Regions from separate parts of the Homo sapiens genome. Here region 1 is linked to region 2. Evidence: fine-mapped expression QTL. Tissue or cell type: whole blood. Region 2 holds a variant in brackets; the other region holds the start of a gene. All regions are shown on one strand. Distances are from middle to middle.

Region 1 (5,000 bases), 110 kb before region 2:
ACTAGATGATCTGGATGGCAGTGCTTGTATCAAATGTACCACAAGGGAAAATCTGGGGGAGCACCATTTGTATGTCACTTTGATAAAATAGTTCTGTTTCTGTTGAAAGCATTATTGCAAATTAACAAGAAACTAATTTACCATAGAAAAAGAACAGGTAATGGACATGAATAGATCATTTTCAGTAAATGGTACAAATAATAACATGAAAAAATCGTGTTCAGCATTACTGATTATAAAAAAGTTGATTAAAACAAGATATGATTTTGATTCGTGACATTTTCAGGTTATAAGCAAGGCAATATTTAATACTGGAGGGTATTTTTGCAGCATCACACAGCACCTTAAAAATGTTTCTAAATGCTGATCCAGTATTTCTACTTTTAGGAATCTATCCTAAGGATGTAGAGATCTTGACAAAGATGATGCAACGTAGTGTTCATTCTAGCATGATTTGTAAACTGCAATAAAGTCTGAAAATATCCTAAAACATTTGATAAATGATTGTAATATTCTTCAACCACAGAAATGATATCTTAAAGAAAGTTTAATAACAGTAAAAAATAGTCAATTTATAAATACTTAGTGAGATAAGGAAGATTCTAAACTCTGTAAAGCATGGTGTTAATTTTATAACAAACCTCTGGGCATAGAAAAAATAAGGAAATATACTAAATGCTAATAGAGAGTGTGTGTGTGGGAGTTATAGGTGATTTTAATTAAAAATGTTTTTCTGTGGTCTCTAAAACATAGATGTAAAATTTTTTTTCTAAAATATAGATGTTAAAATTATAAAAATGAACATATATGTTTTTATTCTCAGAAGAAAATAGAACAATTAAAAGGATTTCAAATACCACTTTGACAAAAATGTCAAGTGCATATTGAGATGAATGTATAGCATGATTACTTAGTCACTGTTTCTTGACATCTTTGAAGATATGAAAGAGTTGGAAAGAAAAATCACAAAATCTCTCAGGAAAATAAAATAATTACATACAAAATCATACTACTTCTAAAATTCATGTTTGGGAGTCCATAAGCTTCAGTTCATCTCTAAACAACATATGGCATTTCCTATTTTATTCCTCTATCCCAGGGAGGCAGAAATTCAGTTATTGTAAGGGCACTTAGATAATTTTCTTTCTTTCTTTCTTTCTTTTTTTTTTTTGAGACAGAGTCTTGCTGTGTCACCAGGCTGGAATGCAGTGGTGCAATCTCAACTCACAGCAACCTCCTCCTCCCAGGTTCAAATAATCCTCCTGCCTCAGCCTCCCGAATAGCTTCGATTACAGGAACCTGCCTCCACCTCCGGCTAATTTTTGTATTTTTAGTAGAGCCGGGGTTTCGCCATGTGGCCCAGACTGGTCTTGAGCTCCTGACCTCAGGTAATCAACGCGCTTCGGCCTCCCAAAGTGTTGGGATTACAGGTGTGAGCCACTGCGCTTGGCCTTGATAATTTTATTTCTAATTAGATTTAGTAGAAAGACCTATTGTTGGAGGCAAGTGCCAAATGTTTTCATAGTGACACTTAAGAATTTGGGATGCAATTTTATAGACTGCTGCTTCTCAACCAAAAGCATTATAATTTCTAAAGACAAGCTTGTAAGAATGCAGTTACGTGTGTGCACAAGACTTATCAGACCATCTGTGACTAATAAAGCTTGAGAAAGAGGGGAGGAGAGAGGGTATTCTGCCTTCCAGTAACATGCTTGTCTGAAACTTACTAAACTCCTCTTAGGCAATACTCTGCTCAGAGAGTCATGTGTTTAATTGTAAAAATCTGTCAGTATCATAGGATTCAAAAGACATCAATCATTTATGTCAACAAGGAAAGAGTGAGGGCTGTGTGACTCTTCTATCATTAGGAAAAGATGTGCTCAAGAGACAAAAATGTGGTCTAAGGAGGGCTGAGCAACTGTAGGTTACAGGAAAACTGAGTTCCAGACTATAATTTGGCCCCCCTCCCCTAATTTGGACTGGTATATTATATTTTTCATTTCATGCAATGCCATGTGTGCAGTAAGACATTATGTAACTTGGTCAGTCGCAGTTGTGTAATATCCACTAAATGCTTTAAAGTGGCTGACGTTATTAGCAGTTTGGTGCATGGGGAGGCCATTGCTTCCCCTGGCTTTGGCGGGATGCAATATCGTGTAATGAGGTTGGAACTGGCCTATATTCAAAATTACATTCCCAAAGGGCTGCTATTCAAGCCACATGACAACTGGTTCTCTTTTTCTTAAGACTTTATTCTAAGTGGACTGAAAACAGCAAAATTGCCGTGTTTGAACGGTTCCATAGGTGGAATGGGTCTTTTCCCTGTTTTGCTCCCAATTTATTATTTTATGCTAAGATTTCTGAATTATAACCAGTTTTAGAGACATCGGGACACAAATTCCCGTCCCCCTCCATCTAAGCTGTGTGACCTCGGGCTGGTTCTGAGCCTTCATTTCCTTACCTGTAAATTGGCGATAACACTTCCCTAAGGAGGTGCAAGAAGGCTTATAAAGACTCCAGCAAAGCTCCAGTCTCTTAATTATGTCACCTCAGGCAAGTTATTTAGCCGTTTGATTTGCTGATTCCTTACTTATAAGTTGGACCAGTTGTGGCTACTATCCGCAGTAGTCGAAGAATAGATATCATAGGCAAAGCTCCGGGAAAGGTGGCTGGTCCTTGGCGGCTCGAGAGGACCTGATAATGGTCCTAATAGCGAGCATTCCCTAGGGTGATGCGGTCGAGTTATGAAACTTTGGGAAAAGAGAACAAGGAACGCGGGCGATCAGAGGCCCAGTCGCGAGACCTGCCCCGCTGGGGCCTCCAGCCGGCACCGCGACGCCCCGGGACCTGGCACCGCCTCGCTCCACCCCTGCGAATCCGGGGCGAATCCGGGCGGAGAGTTCCTGCCGGCCGCGCAGCGCAGAGCCCCCTCCGGCCCGCCCTCTCTCCCTCCCTCCCGCTGAGCTCCAGCTGTGCCAGAGGCACCCGAGCCCTGAGAGTCCGCCGCCAACGCGCAGGTGCTAGCGGCCCCTTCGCCCTGCAGGTAGGAGCCGCGCCGAGACCCGGATCACCGGGCGCCCGTGGGAGCCGGGTTTCCACTGCCCTCGCCCTCCGTCCCTCCTCCGCCCAACCTGGGCAGCTGGCCGCTCCCCGCCCAACTTGGACGGGATTTCAGCGAGTGAGTCGGCGGCGGACTCCCTAGCGATCCCCAAGGGCCTCCCTCGCACGCCTTCGGGTGGAATTCCTGCAGGGTGAAAGCTGACAACTCTGGCACGCACTTTTGCCGCGCGGGCGGCTGCCTGGAGCGCAGAGCCGCGCAGGCTCAGGCTGAAGCCCAGGCGTCCTCTGCAGGATGCACCGCCTCGCCGCCACAGGGCTTCGGGTGCAGTGTGTGTGGTGTCCCCAGGTCATCCGGGCGCCCTTGGTTCGGGTGCGCGGTGGCATGACTGGGCTGGTGGGGGCGATGGGACCGGCATCCCGTACCAACCAGGAAGTGCCGCGTCCCAAGGCTTCGAGCCCAGCCCGCAGAGCACGGTCCTGGGGGTGTGATCACAGCTGCTGACCGCGGCTCCCGCCGTGTGATGTGACCACTCGGAGGTGGGGCGAGGGGGCCGGGGGCCAGCAGCAGGGAGTGTGTAAAAGGTCTTCTTCCTCACAATACGATTGAAGGTGTTTGGGACGTAGGGCTCAGATCCAGGAGTGCCGTCCTCCAAGCCTTCCATAGGATTTTGTGACGCCCTTGAGAACCGCCCTTGTAGACTCAGTCCTGAACTACCGCCACGCCTGTATTTGCTCCTCCTCATCTCGGATTATTGCTTTCTTTACTTCCTCTGTGAAGCACTAAATACTAGTAGCTTTTTAAGAACAGACCACAACAGTTTCTTCGTTTGACCATTACTAAGTCTGCCTCCAAAATGGGGAGTTCCGTTAACTTTATCAGCCAGCCCTGCCAATTTTAGTTAAGATAAGCCTTCGTGGGCCTCCAAAGGCCTCTGAGAGACTAGGTACCCAGAGACCTCTGAGGTATGTTAAATGGTTTAGTTCGTGGTGGTGCAATGAAAACTTAAAGAAGGAAAGGAATCTGCAATTTGAACTGTTAACAGACCCCACATTTACACACTGCCTATTTGAATAAGAATCTCTTTCAGTATTAAATGTTTTGTGACACACAAATGAATTTGTACACAGTCTTTTAGCTTGAATTTGTAGACAGCCTTTAAATGTTGTTTGGGGATCTTTGGACTAATTGTATAAGCGCTCAGTCTGGCTTCTCAAGAACCAGTACAGTTAACAATCCATATAAAAAGTTGGAGTGCTGCCTGGGCGCGGTGACTCACGCCTGTAATCCCAGCACTTTGGGAGGCTGAGGCGGGCAGATCACCTGAGGTCAGGAGTTTGAGACCAGCCTGGCCAACATGGTGAAACCCCGCCTCTACTAAAAATACAAAAATTAGCCAGGCGTGGTGGCACACGCCTGTAATCCCAGCCACTCGGGAGGCTGAGGCAGGAGAATCGCTTGAACCCGGGAGGCGGAGGTTGCAGTGAGCCGAGATGGAGCCATTGCACGCCAGCCTGGGCGACAGGGCAAGAATCTGTCTCAAAAAAAAAAAAAAAAAAAAAAAAAAATTGAATGCTAAGGCTTTGAGGAAAAAGTGTCTTTACAATGTTTGTCCCTGATGACAGAATAATTATGAACTATAGTAAGCGCTGTACAATGCTCATTTAGGTTTGTAGACTTACTTATAACCAGGTAGTGGGGAACCCGGCTTCTTGGAAGTTGTATGTTTACTTAGTGTTTCTTAATTAAAATTACAAATTTTATTTACCTTTAACTCTTATAGGTAACTTTTATTTTTGTTACAAAGGAAAAGTAGGACTGTCATTATTATTATTATTATTATTTTTTGAGACGGAGTCTCGCTCTGTCGCCCAGGCTGGAGTGCAGTGGCGCGATCTCGGCTCACTGCAAGCTCCACCTCCCGGGTTCACGCCATTCTCCT
Region 2 (5,265 bases):
ACAAATTCAGTTTTTCAATAGCTATGAAGTCAGTTTCAATTTCTTTTTATTTTCATTATGAAAATATTTTATTCAAGGAATATGTTTATTTTATTTAAATTACCACAAATATTGGCATACAGTTATTTTTAATAGTTATTATTCATTTAATATAATTATAATGCCTCTAGGCCCTATAGTGATTACCTGTCTTTCACTCCTTTTTTTTTTTTGAGACAGGGTCTTCCTTTGTTGCCCAGGCTGAAGTGCACTGACATGATCGTGGCTCACTGCAGCTTCAACCTTCTAGGTTCAAGCAATCCTCCTACCTCAGCCCCCCGAGTAGCTGGAACTACAGACATGAGCCACCATGTCTGGCTAATTTTTTAAATTTTTTCGTAGAGACAGGGTCTTGCTATGTTGCCCAAGCTGGTCTCAAACTCCTGGGCTTATGCAATCCTCCCATTTTAGCCTCCCAAAGTGCTGGGTTTATACATGTGAGCCCATCCTTTCAATCATTTTTTTGTCATTTATTTTTAGCCTTGCTAGAAGTTCACAAATTTTATTGATATTTCAAAGAGTCAACATCTAGTTTCATTGAATTTTCTCTGTATTTTTTCAGGTTTGTATTTCATCAAGTTCTACTCTTATATTTATTATTCCCCCATCTTCTTACTTTGGGTTTAATGTCTTCTTTTTCTATCTTTTAAGAAAGGAAAGTCTGATCATTAATTTTTAATTTTTTGTCTTTCTCATGTAAGCATTTAAAGTCATTAAATCTTCTAAGTGGTACACTTACTTAGAGGTACGTCTTAATATCTCCGCAATCAGGATGCATCTTATGCTCTTACAGTTATAGTTGTCATGATGTTTTCTTTCTTAGTGGTACATGCAGTAACGATGCATCCTACAGTCACTGGTGTCCTAGATCCAATGAAATGTAATATTAAACAATAACTTTGTTTACAAGTAAGTAAAGATTCTTACATAATAATGCTTGGTAAGTTATAGCTGCTTTCTTCTTGCCATGCAGCCATGGTTTATACTTTTATAGCATGATATAACAAAATCTTTTTTTCTTTTTATGCATTATCCTCAAAATTGAGGGCTCCTCAAGAGCTATCTTAAGATTCTTCAAAGTATCTTGTAGAATGCTTAGCATACAAGGGTACACATGTTTGTGGATTAAATGAAATAAATGATGATAAATACTTAATTGCAGAGTATGACATTAAAAGTCTCCCCCATACCGAAGCTCTTTGAGCCCATATTTAATGTACACATCAAAAAATTGCAATTGTATATATGTTGTTGGCTATCTCTCACTTTTGGTGAACTAGCAGTGCACAGCAATGCATTTTACTATTTTAAAACAGATTTCCTTTTAATGCTTCTTTGATCTTTTCTGATCAATTGCTGTGCTTTATTTGTTTGTTTGCTTGTTTGGACATAGATTACCTTTGAGTTTGTTTCCTACTCTCAATTAAATATGCAAGACTTACACTGTCCAAACTCTTCCATTTGTCTGTTTCCTTATTTATTTTACCCAATAACGTTTCCTTTAGAAACTTTATCTCTGGGTTTTTATTTTCTTTAACTGAATGAAATAGAGCATAAAATTGATTTCTTTTAATCTCTTTAGCTCCTTAAAGCACTGTTGATTTCACATGCTTAGAGGGCTGCCTGGGAGGGCAATACTCCAGTGCAGAATTCCATAAGGCTTTCATCCTGACATAGTCTACCTCTGCTGCCTCAGGTCTAGCAGTTCAGTGGAGAAAGGAGTATTTTCTACTGCTTCTTTTTTCTAACTACAGGGAAGTTACATCATGTACATGTTTAACTCAGAAACTAACTTTAGAACCCAGCCCCAGGGGAAAAATGACTCTATTGTACTCTTAGCTGCCTTGTGAAGCTTAGCTTACCTTAGCTGCCTTATGCCTTACTGAAGGAGAAGAGCCTAGGAAAAATTTCATATATCAGCCGACCTTCCTTCTCCCCTGTCCAGAAAGCCCCAGGTTCCCTCAGATGCTGCTTCTTTGTATAGGAAGTCATGTGTCTGTGTATCTATTAGAATGCTTTTAGTTTGGGGTAACAGAATGTTCAACTAAAGAGGGCTTAAACACTGAGGATGTATTTTTCACATTTAATGTTAAGTCTAAAGTTGGGCAATCCTGAGGTTGGCAGAGTGATTTAGTGATTCTGGGGTTATGGTCTTCCCCTTAGAATTTCAATATTGCTGCACCCCTGTAAGCATCATACTCCCATACAACATCCATCCCAAAGCTGGAAGTGTGGGCAGGGCTTTCTCTGAGAGAGAGGGAGAGAGAGCAAAAGAGAGGGAGGGAGAGAGAGCGAAAGAGAGGGAGAGGGAGAGAGAGAGAGAGAGTGTGTGTGTGTGTGTGTGTTTGTGTGTGTGTTTCAGGGAGGAAAAACTTTCCCATTAAGCCCCTGTGTACCTCCTCATATATCTCATTGTTCAGGATTGTGTCACGTTGTGCTCTAGCTGCACAGGAGTCTGGGAAAGCAAGTATCTAGAATATTCAGTCTGTGGTGGGAGAGAGGCTCTGAGAGCAGGGAAGAAGTTGGAGATTGGCTGTGGGTGGGCAACCAACAGTACCTGTGTGCATATGTGAGCATGTGGGTATGAGAGACAGTTAAAGAGGGGGGAGAGAGAGAGAGAGAGAGAAAGAACTAAGATTGATGTTTTGTATAGCTAAAGGCTATTTTTCCCATACGAAGTTGTTCCTAGACTCATAGTAAAGCTTTGGATTACCCATCACAATGGAGGATGATAATGGGGTTGAATTGGGCTGAAATTGCCTTTGCTTCCTATGACACAATCAGAACTTTATATTTTGTTTTAGTTACTTAAAATCTTGGTTTCATTGTTTCAGGCTGAGTCCAGAAATCTTCCTGAAACGCCCAGTGGTTGAGGGAAAT[C/T]GTTGGAGGTTGGACTGCATTCTTAAACGAAAAGCAGTATGTACTTTCCCAGAAAATGCTGATATAATTTTTTAACTGTCTGTTGTCTCTGAAATGCTTTTCTTTTCAAAGCCTTTCACACGTATAACTTTTCACTTTAGAGTTTGACAAAAAGTAGGATAACTAATGTTTTCCAGTTCATTTGGTTCTATTTTATTCCTATTGCTTTTGAGTGCATAAATATTTTAGACTAATTCACAGCATGGATTATGTTAGCATCTCTAATTCTTATTTTTGAATCAGTTATGGGCAGCTAATTTTATAGGCAAAAAAATTATAATAAAATTTCATCATTGAATAATAAATGATGAAATGGAGCATAGCATTTAATTGTATTCATTATTTTGTCATTTAAGCAAAAGGAAAACTCATCTGGAGAATGGTTTCAGCTAGATGGGGCTAATGTGGTGTAGAATAATATTAAAGGGGGAGGAATAGTCACAGTTGGTGGTGTTTTTTCTCTGGTTTTGGTAAAGTTCCTGGTAAAAATGTGAAACTGTTTCCTGTGGAGTTGACCCTGTACATTCTGGGTGAACATTGAATGTGTGCTTTTTAGGTATAAAAAGTAAATAACTGAAGCAGCCTAGGCTCACTAATGACTGCATTCATATTTCTAGTGATTTTTTTAATGTAATAGGCCCTTAAAATTAAATCAGTTTAAATTAAAAATAGATCTGGGATTTATTATTTAGCATGTCCAAATTAGGAAGTGCTAACTTTTTGCTATTATCAGAAACTGTCTTAACCTTTTTTTTTTTTTTTTTTGAGATGGGGTTTTGTTCTTGTTGCCCAGGCTGGAGTGCAATGGTGCAGTCTCGGCTCACTGCAACCTCTGCCTCCCAGCTTTAAGCAATTCTCCTGCCTCAGCCTCCCAAATAGCTGGGATTACAAGTGCCCACCACCATGCCTGGCTTTTTTTTTTTTTTTTTTGTATTTTTGTATTTTTAGTAGAGACGGGGTTTCACCACATTGGCCAGGCTGGTCTTGAACTCCTGACCTCAGGTGATCTGCCCACCTCGGCTTCCCAAAGTGCTGGGATTACAGGCTTGAGCCACCGCTCCCGGCCAACCTTTTTTTATTCTGTCATTAAACATGCTAGCAGAACGTGTGGAGCCTAAATAATTGGGGTTAGCATTTTTCTGTTTCTCATAGCTTTCACTCATTTCTTCTTTCCTATCCTCTGCATTCCACTTTTTATTTCCCCATTCACTTTCCCCTTTTCTTTCTGTATCTTTTCCCCATGCATTTACTTGAGTATTTCTGGGGATATCCACAAATATAGTCAGACCTCACTGCTAATATTGAAAGCAAAAGAAATTGATAATATTTATTTGAAACACATTCTGCCAAACAACATCATTTTGATGGATAGTCTAGTTTGTTTCATCAATAGAATTCCAGTTACAGAATTGGACATTTTGATTCTGAAAACATTATTCACATATTTATTAAATAATTCATCATACGGTTACTGTCTCCTATGAGCCAGCTTCTACGGTAATCACTAAGAATGCCACCATGAATCAGATTTGAACCTTGCCAGTGGCGAACTTGCTGAGGGACTCATGTCTTGGGCTCAGTCCTAGCCTTACCAGACTACTTTCTACCTATTGAATGGGCAGTAACTTTCTCTATGTTTCTCTCAATGAAATGGCATCTTTTCCATTTTCCCTCAAGATTCTATTTTAGTACATTTTTCCAGCCTTGCGTAGCAATCTGTACTAATACTAGTAAATTTTTGCTTATAATATTTAATCAGCACCTCACTGTTTTAGGTTTCAATCAATATGTATTTATTGAATGTTTTCTATGTGCAGGGCATTTGGCTAATCATATGAGGATGTACATAAATAAAAGCCATGATTCTTAAGTTGAAGGAGCTTATAAAATCTGCAGAAGTGTCAGTTGCATGCAGAAACAATGCCCCGATTTAATGGCAAGAGGGAAAGCATTGGGCTTTCCCAATGGAAAAGGTCCAGTTGGGGAGCTCCACACAACATGAAGGATGTGGGGCATTTAGGATGGACAAACATTTTTAAAAGGGAAAGAAGAACTTTCTAGGTGTAGTAGATGTAAACAGCAGTGCCAAAGACTTTGTCAGGCACGGTAGGGTGGTTCATCACATCTGAGTGTTAGCATAGCCGGATGGGGGATTAAGCTGGAACTGCTAGTTGCAGCTGGGATGCAGAGGCTTTGTGAGCCAAGCTAGTGGTTTGACTTTATGGGAGACAGTGGGGCAGTACTGTGCGGGGCAGGGCGGTGTGGGGAAGCAGGGGTGGTCTGATCAAAATAATGTGTCGGACCCCG

The links. PIP is the estimated chance that this variant, and not a neighbour inherited with it, causes the effect.
Region 1: it holds the start of PLD1, and the variant in region 2 is fine-mapped to the expression of PLD1 in whole blood (TOPMed, PIP 0.99).

Annotation. Positions count from the first base shown.
Region 1 is chr3:171,808,442-171,813,441 of GRCh38, reverse strand. It overlaps PLD1 (phospholipase D1), which reads left to right and starts at 2,959. Exons shown (of 27, transcript NM_002662.5): 1 at 2,959-3,043.
Region 2 is chr3:171,697,435-171,702,699 of GRCh38, reverse strand. It overlaps PLD1 (phospholipase D1), which reads left to right. Exons shown (of 27, transcript NM_002662.5): 12 at 2,874-2,955. Among named protein-coding and RNA genes, the nearest start is that of PLD1, 110 kb to the left of the region's middle. The variant C/T (reference allele first, on the strand shown) is at 2,920.